2 separate regions of the Homo sapiens genome follow, and region 2 is reported to be linked to region 1. Evidence: microRNA targets listed by miRTarBase, many of them from high-throughput screens and not tested one by one. Region 1 holds a microRNA gene; the other region holds the end of a gene's coding sequence.
Evidence for each region. The annotated mature microRNA hsa-miR-3972 reads CUGCCAGCCCCGUUCCAGGGCA and lies in region 1 at 4,678-4,699, opposite strand. An mRNA with a match to its seed (bases 2 to 7 or 8) in the 3' UTR can be bound and repressed. Matches are read on the target gene's strand: a 7mer-m8 pairs with bases 2 to 8, a 7mer-A1 pairs with bases 2 to 7 and ends in A, and an 8mer does both.

Region 1 (9,542 bases):
ACTCTGGCAACGTGCTCTGGAAACTGCCCTAATGTGAATTTGGAATTGTGGATTGTGGCAGCTGCCATGTTTGTGCTGCAGAATCCCAACCTTCTAGGCCATAACTGATTGGGCCAGGGAGAACAGCTGGTCCAAGATGGACCAATCAGAGTCCCTCTCCCAGGAATTTGAAACTGACAATGGGAGCGTCTAGTTGGTCTCTGCCCGTGTCAGTGTCTCTGTGCATGGCCATACTCATCTTTGTCCCCAGGAACAGAGAAGCAAAGGAAGCCAAGCTGGAAGAAGAGGGAGAAGAAGTAGGAGGTGGAGAGGGTGAGAGAAAGAGAGAGAATGAATGATGTAGACACAGAAACAGAGAGGGTTCCAGGCTCTGCTGCAGCTATCCTGCCCTCAGGTTTCTGGTGTCCTTATATTAAGACTCCCTCTGGCTGAAGCTGGCTTCAGTAGGACTCTGTCTCTTGCGAACACAAGAACCTGAATCATTGCACAAACTTCTTGGGGCACATATATAATTACAAGATAGCCTCGAACAGGAAGGAAGGGGAGTGAAAAGAGGCTTTGCAAGCGGAGGGCAAAATGTTGCCTGAAAAGAGGAAGGAAAAAGCGGGGCATGAAGCAATGGTGGTGTGGACAGGTTCCCCACAAGGCTCTGACAATGGGCAAATTGAGTTCTTTTAGGGGATGAGGTGGGGAGGAGTGGAGAGGGGAGCTGGGTGACCTATAGCAGTGCTACTCAAACTGTGTTCCTCTAAAAGGCAGCATCAGCACCACCTGGGTGTTTGTTAGCGCGGCAGCAGTGCCTCGGGCCGTGCTTTAGACCTGCTGAATCAGGACCGCTGGGGTGGGGCCCCACCTGTCCAGGTGTTTCAAAGGCAAGCTCAAGATTTAGAAGCAGGCCAAGCACGGTGGCTTCCGCCTGTAATCCCAGCACTTTGGGAGGCCGAGGCTGGTGGATCACCGGAGGTCAGGAGCTCAAGACCAGCCTGGCCAACATGGCAAAACTCCATCTCTACTAAAAATACAGAAATTAGCCGGGCGTGGTGGTGCACGCCTGCAATCCCACAATCCCAGCTACTCAGGAGGCTGAGGCAGGAGAATCGCTTGAACCCTGGAGGCTGAGGTTGCAGTGAGTGAGATTGTGCCACTGCCCTCCAGCCTGGGCAACAGAGTGAGACTCCGTCTCAAAAAAAAAAAAAGAAAAAAAGAAAAAAAGATTTACAAGCATCAGAGGCAAAGCCCTCAAGGCTCAGTCAAAAGCCACTTCTTCCATGAAGACTTCCTGGATCTCCAGTTCTACCTCTTAGGCTGGAAGTGCTTTGTCTCACCTCCAAACTGCCACATCGCCTTATCCTACAAAATAGATCACTGGGACATGTCCTCAGAGAAGGGAAGAGTTTCCCTCTCAACCGATTAGACTGAAAGTCCCTTGAGAGCAGGGGGCATTCTTAATCATCTCTGCATCTGCCACAGGACACCCTAAATACATGTGGGATGGATGAAGAGCCACAAGCTGGGAGGAAGAGAGCAGAATGAGCATCTGGGTTCCCAGCTGATGCCATGTGCTTTGCACACGTGACCTCATGCAATCATTCATTCACTCCACAAATGTCAAGTGGACCCCTTCCCTGATGCCCCTTGGGCCAGGGCTTGGCCAGCAAGCATTCCACAGGGACCATGGTGGTCAGCCAGCTAGAAGCCCTTCTGAGGAGCACCATAGGACCCCTGATTCTCCCTGCCACCCCCACTGGCCACCACAATCCTAAATATGACTGTGACCAGACATTTTTCCTCTCTCGAGCTTAGAGGTTTGCAGCCTGATTTGGCAAAGGAGTCATGGGTAGTGCCCTCACCAAGTCAGGGAAGAAGGCCGTTGCTTTTTTCCTCTCGGTCTTGAAGAGCTGTGGGATGTCAATGATGTCACACTCTGCCAGGCCCAGCTCCCGCTTCAGCACCTCACGGTTCCAGTCGATGCAGCTCTGGGGGCAGGGGAGGGCCAGAGTTGGGGACACCTTGCCAGTGTGTTTTGGGGGCACCAAGGCATCCTGTCGCTCCCCTCACTTCTTCTGGGTCAAAAGAGGGTGTTGGGACCCCTCTGTCTGGGCCTGTTCTAACCTGAGCTTTCATGAACAGTTAGCCTCAGATGTCTGTATCCCATCCTTGCCTCCAGCCCCGCCTACTCCCAAATCACAGCCCACAGGTACACCACAGCCCTTGTACCTGCACAAACTTATTGTAGTTGATGAGGTCTTTATTGGAGAGCACCTGGTTGATGGAGATGGTCTTGACCTGCTCATCATCTGTGAAGGAGAGAGATGAAAGAGAAGGACAGGGACAGCACCAACGTGAGGACCACCTGCTTAGGGAAGCAGACAGGCAGGAGCCAAGTTCACAGCTAATGGTCTTGCCGAGTCAGCAGCCTCTGACTTTCCCAGGCCTTGGGTGGGTTCCACCTGTCTGAGCTTGCCTTGGCCACTGTGCACATCTTGGGGTATAAGGAGTGGGAGGGTCTGGTTGCCACAGTGGAATGAACTGAGACCTTTATTTGAGTTCACTGGAAGTGGTAACGCCTGTCACTGGAAATGTACAACTGCCCGAGGGCACTGGATGAGGAATCCTCTTGCTTTGGCTTAGCGGGGAGCTGGGTCAGTTGCTGCCCACCCACCCACCATCAGTCAGGTTTTATAGGTTCACTGAGCAGCGAACCAGCCAGTCCTGGGATTCAGACACCATCCAGCCCCAATCCTGCCCTTCAGGGGGTGACTGCGTGAAATGGGGACCTCCCAGGGGTCCAGATTTTCTCAGCCTGATGGTGTGCCCATGCAGATGAGACTGGACAGGGAAGCGGAGGCTAGAGTCAATGGCACACAATCCTCATGGCTGCTACTTAGTAAGCGCTTACCATGAGCAGGCCCCGAGGGGAGTGCCCAGGTTCAGCATCTCATTTAACCCTCACGGTGACCCCCACAAGGTATGCATTATGATCCCCACTTTACAGATGAGAAAACTGAGGCTCAGAGAGGTCAGAAGACTTGCCAAAGGTCACACAGGTAGGATATGTGGGGGCTTGTGATTCAAACCCAAGCCCAGGGCTCGCACAGGGCCTCAAGCCTTGACCAAGGGAAAGGAGAGGGCTCCCCTGACCCATCTGCAGGTCTAACGCCCGCTTCACCCCAGTTTAAGGCAGGAAGCTGGGGTCCAGTCCCAGCTCCACTGCAATCTTGCTGAGGCCTCTGGGCCAGTGACATCCCCTCTCTGAGCCTCACATTCTTGGGAATAAAGGTGGGTGAGAGTCATCCCATTTGATCTCTCGTGAGATCAAATGAGATAACACGTGTGATGCACACAGCGTGAGGCCTGGCGCACTGAGGTGTCTAATCAGTGCTCTGGCCTCTGTGTCTGGCCTCTGTGTCTATGTAATTAATCGCCACAGTCACTGCCTGAGTGTCAGCCCTCGAGGGTGGGGTGGCTGCTTGTGGCCTGCCATCTGTGAATTCTCCCACGCTCCCTCCCAGCTGGGCAGGTTGGAATAACTCTGCTCAACCCATTCCTGGGTCTTGCTCACCATAAGTTCTCCCAGGAAAGATGAAGGTGGCATTTCTCCCTGCCTGGTACATAATTTGGATTTAAGGATTTCTAAGACTTACTCTAGGTTCACCGGAGTCTAGTTAGGGTGCGTTTGGGAGCAACAGGGTCAAGAAAGACTATTTCTCTTCCATTTTATTGCTAAGGCTCCAGGGTTGTGTTGGAAGAAGTTAACGCTAGCAAACAGAGAGCAAGGGGACTTTGGAAATTATTATACTTGGGGGCGTCTAAGTTCTACAGGAGCTTTTTTTCTCTCTGAGCTGTGTTTGGTCTAGGATGCTATCTGCCTTCCCTGAGGCCATGGGACCAAGAAAATCTATGATCCTGCGTGTCAAAGGGTCTTTGCCCTGGGACCTCTGGGGTCACTGAGAAAGGGAGGATCCTCTGGGATTCATGCAGTCTCAGTGGGGCTGGAAAGGGAGTGAATTTGAGAACGCTTCCAGCAAGCTTGCCAGATGACTCCAGTCCAGCCAGCTCTCTCTCTCTCAAAATTCTTCCAGTGCAAAACAAAAAACAAAACAAAAAAAAGTGGGCCCTGGCCAGACACAGTAGTTCACACCTGTAATCCCATACTTTGGGAGGCCAAGACAGACAGATCACTTGAGCTCAGGAGTTCAAGACCAGCCTGGGCAACACGGTGAGACTCCATCTCTACAAAAAATACAAAAAATTAGCCAGGCGTGGTGGTGCATGCCTGTGGTCCTAGCTACTCGCAAGGCTGCGGTGGGAGACTCGCTTAAGTCTGGGAGGTCGAGGCTGCAGTGAGCTGAGATCATGTCACTGCACTCCAGCCTGGCTGATAGACCCTGTCTCAAAAAAGAAGAAAAGAAAATGCCAGCTCCTTGTTTAAAGAGCAGACAAAAGAGTACCATTAAAAGTGCTACAGTATAAAGTTGTTTCTTTGTCCCCGAGTCTCTCTCCTGACTTGTCAGGGTGGTTTTTATTTGCTATTTCACATTGCGCTTTGCCGGGGACTTGCATGGGGCTGGACAGTCCCTTGCTGGTGTCAGGGCCCACCCTGTGGGCCTCACAGCGGAGGCCTAGCTCCCAGGGGGCTGTGCTTGGGCATGCCTCTGCTATGAGACCCACATGCTGTGCCCTGGAACGGGGCTGGCAGGTCCAGTTTGGCATCTCTCATTCCCACAGGACTGCCACCCCAAGCCAAGGCAAATGGGCGACCTCCAGAGTATTGTGGCCTCTGGGTATGTGCTGGGTACCTGAGCAAGCCTGGGTGAGACACTTACCCCTCCCAAGTTGCCCACCAAATGCCCTTGCAGGGCAGGGACGACTGATGCCATGAAGATGCTGAGTGGCACATGTGCCCAACCCCAGCCCTCCCCATGCCCAGGCTCCTGCTGGGGGCAGAGTGCTGCAGCATCTCAGGACAGTGACAGAGATGGGGGAGGCCTTGCACTGAGGCTCCAGGGAGCACAGAAGTAGGCAGCAGAGAATCTGTGCCAGGGAGGCAGGGAGGCTGGGAGACAGGACTGTGCCTGAGCAGAGGCTCCAAGCCCCGTAGATGCTCCACTGATCCATCAGACCTCACAAAACAGAATTAAGATTTCAGGGCAGCCAGGTGTGGTGGCTCACGCCTGTAATCCCAGCACTTTGAGAGGCCGAGGCGGGCTGATCACCTGAGGTCAGGAGTTCGAGACCAGCCTGACCAACATGGAGAAACCCCCGTCTCTACTAAAAACACAAAATTAGCCGGGCGTGGTGGCGCATGCCTGTAATCCCAGCTACTCAGGAGGCTGAGGCAGGAGAATCGCTTGAACTTGGGAGGCGGAGGTTGCGGTGAGTGGAGATCACGCCATTGCACTCCAGCCTGGGCAACAAGAGTGAAACTCCGTCTCAAAAAGGAAAAAAAAAAAAGGGAGATTTCAGGATAGTGACTGCAGAACATTAAAGCTCCACGCCGTGACTGCACTGGTCACCTGCCTGGGAAGCCACTATGTCCCCGCTCAGTCCATGTCCACCTTCTATCACCCCGCTTCCCACCTCAGCTCGGCCCCAGCTGTGGGCAGTGGTGTCTGGTGAAGCAAGGTGTGCAGGGGCAGGAGTGAGAAGCCCTGAATTTGGGGACACACCCCTGCTTTAAAACTTGCCCTCCCCCTCTCAAGCCATGATGTGTCTTAATTTGGGTAAGGGGCAGGCAAGCCGCAAGGAGGGACACGGCACTGTTACCCACCAACAACCCCCTGGAACAGGAGGGCCCTCCCGTGGCCACACTTCTGCTTTTCCTGGAAGAGCTTGAAGCAGGCCCCAGGGCTGGCCAGGAGCATCCGGAAGCCCTGCGTGCAGAGAACAGATTCAGCTGAGCCTCCTGCCTTGGCATGGCGCCCTGGAGCTCAGTTCTTGCCCCAGATGCCAGGGAAAGACACGTCATGCACGAAGTTCTTACCTTCCCATCGGGGGCAGGGACAAAGCTCAGAAACTCATCCACATGGCCCACGGCCAACCAGTCCACAAAGAGCTCCACGGGGGGCTGCACCTTCTGGGCATGGAGGAAGTCCCGCACCACCTGGGTGACCCTGCGGCCACTTGACCTGGGACCCACGAGGTTAAAAAAAAAGTTGCTTAACTAAAAAGACTCCATGCAGAAATAAAATGACAAGAGTTTAGCATTCCTGCAATATCTGATTTTTAAAAAACAAAAAAACATGCATTACTTTTATAAACAGGAAAGTAATAAATATGTATATTTCATTTTATTTATTTATTTATTTTTGAGATGGAATCTCACTCTGTCACTCAGGCTGGAGTGCAGTGGCGTGATCTCGCCTCATTGCAACTTCCGCCTCCCAGGTTCAAGGGATTCTCCTGCCTCAGCCTCCCAAGCAACTGGGATTACAGGCGTGCACCACCAGGCCAGGCTAATTTTTCTGTATTTTTACTAGAGATGGGGTTTCACCATGTTGGCCAGGCTGGTCTCGAACTCCTGACCTCAAGTGATCTGCCCGCCTCAGCCTCACAAAGTGCTGGGATTACAGGGATGAGCCACTGCACCCAGCCAGATACGTATATTTTAAAATTCCACTTAGGGTGAGTTCTGCATGAGGCAGACTCAGGACAGGTCAGTCACACCAGGGCAATGACCTACCAGGTCCCACCATCCAGGAAAATCTTCAGAACCACCCTCACACCAGGTTCTTATTCTCCAAGAGACAGATTTCACCCCCATGTTCAATTTTTACGAAAATGTATCTAAGGGCATGGTCCAGCTTCCTCTTTCAATGGGATTATGTATTTGAGGGCAGTAGTCCCTTCCAAAGCTTGACTCTGGATTCATTCATTATTTGATCCCAAGTCTGTTCTAACAGCTTTGTTGCATTTGGTTAGCTCAATGTCTTGGTCTAGTCCACAGCAAGTAACCAATATGATAGGATTCCTTTTCCATCAGCACCCCTGTGTCACTACTGAACAACACATCATTTGTTACTCTCTCTGTATGTTATTGTCATTTCACTTAGCATGTCTTGTACCTCACTTCTCTTGCTCTCAGGAAAAGATCTTATATTAGTCATTTACATGGTAGTATGAACAAGCTTTGACCTAAATGCATTTTCTCCCAGGACTGTTGGGAATGGAAACTTTTTCTTTGTTACTTTTTTTTTTTTTTTTTTTTTTTGAGACGGAGTCTCGCTCTGTCGCCCAGGCTGGAGTGCAGTGGCATGATCTCAGCTCACTGCAAGCTCCACCTCCTGGGTTCATGCCATTCTCCTGCCTCAGCCTCCTGAGTAGCTGGGACTACAGGCGCCTGCCACCACGCCTGGCTAATTTTTTTTTTTTTTTTAGTAGAGACGGAGTTTCACCATGTTAGCCAGGATGGTCTCGATCTCCTGATCTCATGATCCGCCTGCCTTGGCCTCCCAAAGTGCTGGGATTACGGCATGAACCACCATGCCCACTCTTCTTCTGTTACTATTAATTGACTGTTACTAGTATCATCTATTTATTTTCAGAATCAGAAAACTTGAGTCTAGTTATAACTTTGCTTTCTATGTGACTCACTTACCCTCTCTGGGCCCACTTGTAAAATGAAAGTGTTGGACTGAATGATCTCTTAGGTCTCTGCTCTCTCTGGTTTCAGAGTCCCCGAGGTAAGTGTGGACTGTGTCTGGTGAACACCCACCAACCCCAGCACATCCGGGAGTATAATTTCATCATTCCTTGCTTCTGGCTCTCTTCAAGGAGTGCAATGGCCCCTGCTCCACCATCATCACCACCCCCAACCCTCAGCCTCCACCCCAGGAACTCCATTCCCTGTCTCTCTCTCACCCAGGCAGGTTGCCCCCAATGAGGATCCTCCCCAGGGGGTACTCTTTCCCATTGGCCACCACTGGAGGGCTGACCTCCAGGTTCCCAAAGGAGTCCAGGCCACTCACAGACCTGTCGCGTGGTTCCCGAGTCACGTAACCAAAATCTGGACCCTGGAGAGGGAAACCAAGTCAGGCGGGGGTGGAGGGTACCAGGAAGGGCCTGAACCAACTTGCTGGGCTTTGAGCTCCTTCAAGACAGGGTGGGAAAGGCCATCCATTCTTCAGGTGGAAATACAGAGTCATTGGCGGTGGGTGGGGGATCTGACCCAGTCAATATTTCATGCACGCATAGCAGGCAAAGTCGGGAAGTGCTCGGACTCTCTGGCCCTGCTGCCTTATCACGGCAAGACAGCAGGGGGCGCTCCGGTTGCTCCTGCACTCCCCATCGGACATGGAGCCTGAGGCCATGGCCACTCCATCCCCTTACCTACACAGCCTTCCTGCAAGTTCAGCCCAAGGGCAAGTAGCAGCTCAAGTGGCCAATTGTGGGAACCAAGAGGCTGCTGATGGCCCTCTGGGCCTCTGTCTTTGAACTCTAGAGAAGGGGAGACCTCCCCAGGGCTATCTCTCAGAAGCAACTTCGACAACATCAAGGGTCAGGAGAGAGAGCTCCTAGCATCTGTGTGATCAGTGAGGGGGTTGGAGGGGTCTCTTGTTCTTTACGGCACCAGGCAAGTCACTCTTGTTTTCTCAAGAGGTCCTCGTTAGCAATCATCACCTTCCCTGTTATCCTTTTTCTTAAAATAATGATACTAGCTAATAGTGGTGCGCGCACACACACTCCCTCCATGCAGGTACTGTGATGATGAGATGCTTCACAAACCCCTGTGAGGCCAGGGCCAAAATGTCATTTTTACTGATGAGGAAACTGAGGCTCAGAGAGCGGTAGTAACTCACGCAACATCACACAGCATGTAAGTAACGGAACAGGGTTGGTCTGACCCTAAAGCTTGTGCTCTGAACAGGTGCACCATCCTGCCTCCCCTATTTAGGGCTGCCAGATTCAGTAAATAAAAATACAGGATGCCCAATTAACTTTGAATTTTAGATAAACGACAACTTTTTTAGTGTAAGTATATCCCATGCAATATTTGGGACGTACTTACACCAAAAAGTTAACCTGTTGCTTGTCTGAAATTCACATTTGACTGGGCATCCCTGCATTTTATCTGGCAACCCTACCCTCATCCCTAAAGAGCACGGTTCCCACTGCTGCCCTCTGTACCCCACACCCCGGTGTGGCCCCTGGGGTAAGGCCTCTCAGCTCTCAGGGGTGGGCTGCGGCCGGGACCACTCACCAGGATTCTTTTGTAAGGGAAATCCTGCAGTTCCCCATTCCTTGGGGAGTCAAAGACCACCGGGAGGGTCTTGTGCGGCGCCTGAACGTAGCCCAGCTCCATCTCATCCTGCAAGTGAGGAGAGGCGAGAGACGCACAGCTGTGACAGTCAACAGCTGCCCCTGCTGGCTCGGCTCTGAGCCCTGTGGGGCAGACTGCTCACCAAGTCCCCTGGCCCAAGCATGTTTTGTGCTTGGAGGCGGACAGGACCGAGGTCAGGGTGCCTGCTGACTGGAGGAGGGGCTGGAGGCTCAAGGAGGGGGTGCACTTGTCTAAGGTCACACAGCAAGACAGAGGCCGGAGG
Region 2 (9,542 bases), not on the chromosome of region 1:
TGTGGGAGGAGGAGTCACATTATTATCCCTGAATCTCAAGTACAGCAGAAGTGAATTCCTGGGATAGTAGGATAGACTAACATGTAAAAAGGCCAGGTGATGCATAGGTTCTCATTTCACTGCCCTCAGCCTTCCTCTCCTTCTGAGCTGTGCCTTCTCACATGTTCAGTCAACTCCAGGGAATATTGTCTCCATCTTCTGGATAGAACTAGTTGCAGGATCCGTTACAAGAATTCAGAGTTTTGGCATCTCCCCTTTGTATGTTGTAGGAGAAGGTTTGGCATTGAAAATGTGCTGTTGTTCCAAAGAAAAATTAGCAAAGGACTTGAGATTTAGAAAAGTCTCCTTTGTAATGTGCATCATTACCAGTTATCTAAAGAAAAACATGTAAAAGCCAACAAAACCCTTGAAAATATTTTGCATATGGATGTCTGTTTCACGTTTCAACTGAAGATGTATAGAGCACCTCTGATGATGAGGAAGATACCATGCTAGGCAGTACTTTCAAGAACGTGAGTTCTTATTTCTGCAGGCCTTTTGTGCCCCCTTTTAAATGTTAGCATTTATTAGGTACAAACTAGTGGGGAAGGTTTTTTTAAAAAGTTTTGCAGTCTTGTAATTTACCTTTTTAAAAAATTTATTTTATTTTTCTGAGATGGAGTCTTGCTCTGTTGCCCAGGCTGGAGTGCAGTGGTGCCATCTCAGCTAACTGCAACTTCCACTTCCCAGGTTCAAGCGATTCTCCTGCCTTAGCCTCCCAAGTAGCTGGGACTACAGGCGCATGCCAGCATGCCTGGCTAATTTTTGTATTTTTAGTAGAGCGGGGGTTTTGCCATGTTGGCCAGGCTGGTCTTGAACTCCTGACCTCAGGTGATCCGCCTGCCCTGGCCTCCCAAAGTGCTGGGATTACAGGCATGAGCCACTGCGCCCAGCCTTGTAATTTACCTTTGATGGTGACCTGAAATGCAGTATGATCCTATATGTGGCACGTAGTAATGTTCAGTGTTTGCTGAATTAATTCTGGGCAGCACTAAGAAATCCCTCTTTCCCAGTCATATTCTATAACACATTTCCCATTTGCCACAAAACCTGCAGCTTTTTGGTCCAGGTAATGACATTTGCTGCCATTTTGATGATTTAAAAATGGTCGTGGGAGTTGAACATAGTCATGAATTCAGGATTCCTGAGCATGTAGACAGTCATCCCAGTGGAAAGACACGTTCACTTAAGAGAAGTTTAAGTTAGAGGAAACAGTTTATGCTAAAAAAATTTTTAGAAAAGTCCTTGAGAATTTTTGATTTAGTCTTGACCTCATGAAGCTGGTAGTTATGATGTGCATAGTTTGTATCACCGTTTATGAAGATGGAGAATCTAGTCAGCACGTGTTGGTTTATTCTAGGAATTTTTAGGGAACACTTCTGTTGCTGGCACCAGGTGATGAATATGGTTAAAAAAAGACTCGTTTCTGCCTAAACATAGGGAAGAAGAGCAAATTAAAAGGAGTAATTAAAACTGATAAAAGCTCAAGTTACCTTTGTGATGATGAGGCGGGCAGTTAACGCGAAAGGGTTGGGAAAGGCTTCCTGGAGGGACTAGGGGGCGGTCTAAGCACAGGGAACCTAACCGGGGACTCCAGTGTGGCACAGCGGCAAGGTATGTGCTGGGCAAAATGATAGGTGTCTTGGGAGACCAGGCAAAGAGAGCTGGATTAGGAGCCGTTAAGTATATATTTTTCTTCTTTTTAAATAAAATAATGCACTGGGTGAACATGTAAACGCTAAGTTGAAAATCTGCCTTTCCCAGGTAACCCTTGTTAATCTTTCTACAACTTCATTTCGTACAAACCTGAAAAACACACTGATTTTGTCTTTAAATGGGCACACGCTGCTTACACTCCTCGGCGCCTAGCCTTTCTGAAGCCCCACGCGGCCGTCCCTCCAGCATTGAAGGCTGGGGCAGCCCAGCTCCCCTCCAGCGCCCTTACAGCCAGACCGCGGCGGGGTCGGGCCGCGCACGCGCAGGGCGGACGGCCGGATCTGGGGCGCCGCTGCTCCGGGTGGTCGGAGGTAGGAGTCCCATCTTGGGTCCAGGGCCGGTAGAGCCCCTTACCGGGGGTAGGGAGACTGCGCACCCGCTAGAGCCAACTGTCAGGGCCTGCAGACGTCGGGTGACGTCACTGTTACAAAATTGGCGGTCACATCGTCTTAAGGGCCGGTGGCAGCGGCTGCGCGAACGGGAGTTGGCTGCCGGGAATCAGTGCTCACTTCCTTCTGAATTGGGCGTGTGCAGTCGGTTCCTAGGGAAGTGCTCTGCTGCAGCCACCAGATTTAACGGATGCTGCTCTCTAGCACTTAACATAGAAGCTAAACTACCTGGCGTTAAAATTAATTCCATGAGCATAAGGACATTTGTCCTATCCCCTATTCTGCTGTTGAATTAATGACTGGAAAACATTGCGCGGAGGTATTTGGGAGTAGTATGGCTTTTTTTTTTTTTTTTTTTTTAACAGCAAATGGTATAAATCTCAGGTACAATTCAGTATCTTCTTCACCAGTTGTTTTTTTTCAGCATGTATTATTACTACCACTAACGGCCTCTGTTGAGCCCTTCCTTGCTATGTAAGCAGCCATATTTAATTCTCAGAACAATGTAATGAGGGTGCGCAAATGCACATGAAGAAACAGGTTTCCAGACGTGAGGCACCTAACTCAGTCCAACTTGCACGAAGCTCGCATTGAAAACCAGATGTGACTCCGAAGCTAGGTTTTTTTTCTCTCTTGCCTCACTCTCAATATTGCTGTCAGTTCCTCCTCAATCTTTAGGTTTGGGCAGGGACAAAGAATACATGGATTGTTCCTCCACATGCTGCAAACACATTCACCTAAGCAGAGCACAGGTAGTGAGATGAGTAGAGAGAACTGAATTAGAGGATTCTGGATGTCAGTCTTTGCTGTCACTTCTTTTGGCTTGTGCTAGAACAGTGGTTCTTACAAGTGTCACGTGATAGACACATTCTAAGGTCCTATCCCAGACCTACAGAATCAGAAATTGGTGGTGGGGCCCAGCAAGCGTGCTCAAATTTGAGAGCAGGTAGACTACAGGGTAGTTTCCGCATATACAAAAGGTGTTTTAATTCTTGCTGTCAGTCTCAGAAGTTTCATGCTGAGATAACCAAATTTAAATGATAAAGGTGCAAGACTGACTCTTAAAATCACATTTTTTCAAATTGCCATAGCTTGCTAGTGTTCTCATTCACTGTGCTTTTACAGCTTCATTTTCCACTATTTTAAGAGAAGAAATTGCTATGAAGTGTATGTCCAAGTGAGGAAGTTCCCTGGTCTGAGGTTGTTTAAAACTTACAATAGGCCGGGCACGGTGGCTCAAGCCTGTAATCCCAGCACTTTGGGAGGCCGAGGTGGGTGGATCACGAGGTCAGGAGTTCAAGACCACCCTGGCCAACATGGTGACACCCTGTCTCTACTAAGGATACAAAATTAGCCGGGCATGGTGGCACACGCCTGTAGTCCCAGCTACCTAGGAGGCTGAGGCAGGAGAATAGCTGGAACCCGGGAGGCAGAGGTTGCAGTGAGCTGAGACTGTGCCACTGCACTCCAGCCTGGGTGACAGAGCAAGACTTGGTCTCAAAAACAAAAAACAAAAAAACCAAACTTGGAATAGCAAGGGCTGCCCATTATTTAACCTTCCACGGCAATTTTAACAGTGGTATTCTGTTCCAAGTGGTTAATATTAAATCCATGTGTCAGTGTTGGTGGCTTTCAACCTTGGCTGCGCATAATCATTTTGATGCTTAGGCTACACCCAGCCGAGTTATACAGAATCCCTGGAGGGTGGGACCTGATGAGTGTTTTAATGTTTCCCGGGTAATTCCAATGGTAGCCAAGGTTAAGAACCAGTACCGTACGTACAAAAAAGTTGAGAAGCTAATTTCACGTACAGAAAATTTGCCACTGTTCCAAGAGCACTCTCAAGCGACATAATTGGCCTCTACTCCTATTCCCTACAAGTATGAATGGGCAGGAGAAGCATCACAGAGAAAGCAGAGTTAGTGCTGGAACTTGTATTTTTGTGGATGATGACCTTGGTTAATGTTTTTTCATAGGCTCTGTTTCATAGGCTTTGTTTTTTCATAGGCTCTCCCTCATTACATTGTTCTGAGAATTAAATATGGCTGCTTACATAGTAATGAAGGGTTCAACAGAGGCTGTTAGTGGTAGTAATAATACAAGCTGAAAAACTACACAGACAAACCTATCAGTTTCTGCCTCTTCAGGATATAACTATTAGGTTAGTGCAAAAGTAATTGCGGTTTTTGCCATTAAAAGTAATGGCACATTACTTTTGCACCAACCGACCTAATATGACTTTCTTTTAGTGTTCTTAGGATTTTTAATTGTAAAACATGTAACAAATTTTCCTAAACAATTGTGCAATTCAGTGGCATTATTTACGATGTTACGCAACCACTATTGTATTTCCAAAATGTCATCACCCTAAACAGAAGCCCTGTAACATTGTCAATTAACTTCTCCTTCCCTTCCCCTCAGCCTTTGGTACTGTTTCTGCCTCAATGCATTTGTCTAAGTTTAGTTCATATAAGTGAAATTATACAATACTTGTCCTTTTTTATCTGGCTTATTTCATTTAGCATGTTTTAAAGGTTCATCCATGTATCAAACAGTAAAGTGCTTCATATTTGGGGGAAGTATAAAAAGTATTCCTTTTAATGGCTGTGTATTTCACAGTGTATGTACACATGTATATTGAGAATTGAGAGATTTGTAGGTACACATTAACCATTTGTTGGTGGACAGTCAGGTTTCCACTTTGGGCTGTTGAGAATGCACAGTAAACACTGACCATACGAGTTTTTTTTTTTTTTTTTTTTTTTTGAGACAGTCTCCCTCTTGTCGCCCAGGCTGGAGTACAATGATACAATCTTGGTTCGCTGCAACCTCCACCTCCTGGGTTCAAGCGTTTCTCCTGCCTCAGCCTCCCAAGTAGCTGGGATTATAGGCGCCCACCACCACACCCGGCTAATTTTTGTCTTTTTAGTGGAGACGGGGTTTCACCACGTTGGCCAGGCTGGTCTTCAACTCCTGACCTTAGGTGATCAGCCCGCCTAGGCTGCCCAAAGTGCTGAGATTAGAGGTATGAGCCACCGCGCCCGGCCTTCATTCGTTTTTAATTCCTTTTGTATAGTCATCCCTCAGTATCCATGGGGGTACTGGTTCCAGGACTTTCCATGGATACCAGAATCCGAGGGTACTCAAGTCCCTGATATAAAACAAGATGGTTATTTGCATATAACCTACACATCCTGCGTAATTTAGCCATCTAGCTCTAGGTTACTGGTAATACCTAATACAATGTAAGTACTATGTAAACAGCTGTTATACTTTTAACAGCTGAAGTCTGTACATGGTCAGGAAACAATTTTTCCCAATTGTTTTTGATCCAAAGTTGACTAAATCCATGGATGTGAAACCCAAAAAGGAGGGCCAGCTCTGGGTCATGTGGTAATTCCATGTTTAGCTTTTTAAGCAGCTGCCAGACTTTTCTACAGCAACTGCAACATTTTACATTACCACCAACAAAGTACAGAGGGTTCCAATTTCTCCATATTCTTATTTTCCATTTTTTGGATTAGAGCTATCCTATTAGGTATGAAGTGGTATCTGGTTTTTATGTGCATTTCCCTTATGACTGACAAACGCTGAAAACCTTGTGTGAGATTTGTAAAAATTTTTAAGCGTCCTATAAACAATGCTTTTTTTTTTTTTTTTTTTTTTTTGAGACGGAGTCTTGCTGTCACCCAGGCTGGAGCGCAATGGTGCAATCTTGGTTCACTGCAACCTCCGGACTGGGTTTGAGCAATTCTGCCTCAGCCTCCCGAGTAGCTGGGACTACAGGTGAGTGCTACCACACCTGGCTAATTTTTGTACTTTTAGTAAAGTACACCACGTTTTCACCAAGTTGGCCAGGCTGGTCTCAAACTCCTGACCTCAGGTGATCTGCCTGCCTTGTCCTCCCAAAGTGCTGGGATCACAGGTGTGAGCCACTGCCACCATGCCTGGCCTAAACAATGCTCTTAAATGCATTAAAATACAGGTTCAGAGATTTTTAGAATTTGTACATAAACCCAGTGAAAAGTGAAATCTGTCACAAAGCACTTTTTTGAACACCGATCAATTATACTTTCCTGAACATCTGCTTCACATCTCCAACTTTAGGGTAGCTGTGGGTGGCTGGCACAGACTAAAAGGAAGTTGACAAACACTGATGGTTTGGGAACCTTATTTTTTAAAGTTTTTCTCCTTTTTAAACTTGTATTCTTTATGAGAACTTGTTCTCTCATGCTCACTCCAATGTTTGCAGTTTTCTAAGTCCCCTTCTTCTTGGCTCATTACCCAGTCCTCCACTTTTACTCTCCATCCTATTTAATATTATTTAACTATAGTTCAATAGTATTTTTGTATCACTCATTCAGACTAGCTAAAATAAAGCTATGTATCTTAGTTAAAAGCCAAAATTTGATGATCTGGGAAAAAAAAGCCTGTAGTGACACACATTGGAGATGCTTTGTAATTAGTATATTAAGGAGACAATACATTTCAAGAATTGCTTAAATTCTGATACCCAGATTTAAGCATGTGAACATATGAGACTTTTAAACATACAATTAAAGCTATTCATCATAATTTGCTATACTACCAACATAACTTTGGAGCGAAAGTCAAATGGTTTAAAGTAATCCTGTAACATACCTAAAGAACACCTTCCTATATTACGCATGCAAATTCTCCACGTAAAGGTCTTTTCACTTTAATTTCTGTTACCCAGCTCTGAAGTCACTACTTGGGCTTATCATGGTCCACAGACAAGGAGGGGAGCAAATGACCAGGACTGGTCAAGATTATATATATATATGTATATATATATGAATGGCACAGCAGAAGGAAACACAATTCTGGAAGTGCAAGCCTTCAAGAAGCAGCATATTATGATAAACCCCTCCTACAGAAAGGTATCATTTTTATCACTGATACCACAGGATAAATTATATATTACGCCATCTTCAAGTAACAGCTGAGGCAACAGAATAAATGCAGAGGCATTACAATGAATCCCACTTAATATAAAGAACTATACAGACCAACACTTCTCTACAAAATTTTTTTTTCCTCATTGCCAGTTAAATACAGAGTTTTACTTTCATAGCTTAACAATGAAGGGTCATACACTGAAGCCAATACATATACCTAGCATTTCAGTCTAAGCTTGTCCACGTACATAGCTGAAGTCAATTACAAGGTTTGGCCTAGAAATGCTAGGGGAACTTCTTTGTAGTTTTTACAGGTATTAAACTTCATCTTGCACACTGAAGTCATCATACATACAGGGCAAAATCAGAGCTTTTATATTTGCGTTTATTCTTCATTTAACTTTTTAAAACACTACTATAGTTTATTAAAACAAAAACAAGAGCAAGTAGTGAGCATATTATGATTACAGTCCTTCACTCATTCACTACTGCACATTAAATGCCAGCAGTGAGTGTTATTCACTGGCCCATTAAGAGGTCTGACACTGAACACCACCTCTGGGATGATGTTCATCATCCTCATATGCTTCTCCATTGTAGTGGCGCCGTCTTTCCTGATTTGGATCAAAGTCCACCAGTTCTACTTGGTCCATCTCATCAGTCTCTTCCACTTCCTTCCTCTCGGGTAGGAGTTTTTCCAGCAAAGACAGTTTATCAGGAGAGAGAAAGCCATTCTCAGGAAAGTTTACCTTCAAAAGAAACTTTCACTGTTCAATCTGATTTCATCATTAGCTCCCTTAGAGTATCATGGACCCATTTTCCCCAGAAAAACACATGTAAACACGTAATATTTAGGTGAATCTGCCAATCTCAGGTTAGAACAGGCTCTAAAAAGGCACAGTGCATAGCACACTCTGAACTAGAGTTCAAGGATTATGACCAGAAGTCAGGCTTTATTAAAAATGATTGTATTAAATAAAACTGCACTTTAACAACCATTGTTCTATCCAGCAAACTGACTTTTTAATACCAAAACCCATCCTGCAACAGCCTAACCCTTCTTACGACATATTTAAACAAAGCTATTCTTACTCTCAAAAGGGTAGTTCTTCCTTACCAAAGATGTTTTTAGGCCAGGCGCGGTGGCTCATACAATTGGGATTACAAATCCCAACACTTTGGGAAGCTGAGATGGGCAGATCACCTGAGGTCAAGAGTTTGAGACCAGCCTGGCCAATATGGTGAAACCCCATCTCTACTAAAAAGCCCAGCGTGGTGGCGGGCACCTGTATTCCCAGCTACTCAGGAGGCTGAGGCAGGAGAACTGCTTGAACCCAGGAGGTGGAGGTTACAGTGATCCAGGATCGCACCACTGCACTCCACCTTGGGTGACAGAACAAGACTCCCGTCTCAAAAAGGAAAAAAAAAAAAAAAAGTTTTAATTAATATTTTTATGGTGACAGGCCAATTTAAGACTCAGGAAAATGACTGGATTGCTTTATACCTATTAACAAATCAAGCATTACACTATTTTGCCAAGAAATCTGCAATTATTATAAAGCACCTCTCAACTTTAAGATGCCAGTTACAACCTTTCATTAGTAAAATACCCACTTGTCCCACACACCCTTCCCACAACCTATCTTTAAATATCCAATTAATGATGCAAAAAACCCCATCCTCAACTTGTTAACAAAGAATGCTCAACATGACAGAAGTAGTTATTAGGTAAATTTTCTTTTTTCTTTTTTTGAGACAGGGTCTCATTCTGTCACCCAGGTTGAAGTACAGTGACACGATCTTGATTCACTGCAGCCTTGACCACCTAGGCTCAAGCAATCCTCCCACCTCAGCCTCCCGAGTAGCTGGGACTACAGGTGTGTGCCACCATGCCTGGCTAATTTTTGTACTTTTTGTAGAGATGGGGTTTTGCCATGTTGCCCAGGCTGGCCTTTAACTCCTGAGCTCAAGCAATCCACCTGTCTTGGCCTCCCAAAGCACTGGGATTATAGGTGTGTGCCAGTGGCACGTGGCCAGATCCATATATTTCTTGCTGTGGAAAAATGTAAGTTTCAGGTTCTGAGGCATTCAGAAATTTTAATTTTTTTTTTTTTTTGTTTTTTTAAAGAGACAGGGTTTCACTATGTTGCCCAGGCTGTTCTCAAAACTCCAGGGCTCAAGGGATCCTCCTGCCTCAGCCTCTCAAAATGCGGGGATTACAGGCATGAGCTACTTGCACCTGGCTGAAATTTTACTTTTTTATCAGATTTTAGTAAGCCAATTGTTCTCAAGTATTCTTAAAGTACATTACAGCTTACCTTAAATTCGATGATTAGGCGACCCTTTTCATATGGTCTACGATAAATTGGCATGCCTTCATTTAGTACACACTTGATATCTCCATGCTTGACAATCTGACCTAAAAACATTGAAGCCAAGTTCTTCCTTAAGTATGGTCACATTTTTATGAGGCAGGGAA

Region 2: miRTarBase lists DNAJA1 as a target of hsa-miR-3972. Seed matches in the 3' UTR shown: 7mer-m8 at 7,564-7,570 and 7mer-A1 at 7,207-7,213.

Annotation. Positions count from the first base shown.
Region 1 is chr1:17,273,105-17,282,646 of GRCh38, reverse strand. MIR3972 (microRNA 3972) reads right to left here and starts at 4,758; the gene lies at 4,672-4,758. PADI3 (peptidyl arginine deiminase 3) reads right to left here. Exons shown (of 16, transcript NM_016233.2): 10 at 9,200-9,307; 11 at 7,861-8,012; 12 at 5,984-6,128; 13 at 5,771-5,873; 14 at 2,218-2,297; 15 at 1,851-1,976. RefSeq lists an enhancer at 8,149-8,650.
Region 2 is chr9:33,036,955-33,046,496 of GRCh38, reverse strand. It overlaps DNAJA1 (DnaJ heat shock protein family (Hsp40) member A1), which reads right to left. Exons shown (of 9, transcript NM_001539.4): 8 at 9,382-9,482; 9 at 6,590-7,812. The coding sequence ends at 7,594. SMU1 (SMU1 DNA replication regulator and spliceosomal factor) reads left to right here. Exons shown (of 12, transcript NM_018225.3): 12 at 1-4,732. Among named protein-coding and RNA genes, the nearest start is that of DNAJA1, 16 kb to the right of the region's middle. RefSeq lists a silencer at 1,839-2,158 and an enhancer at 2,013-2,514.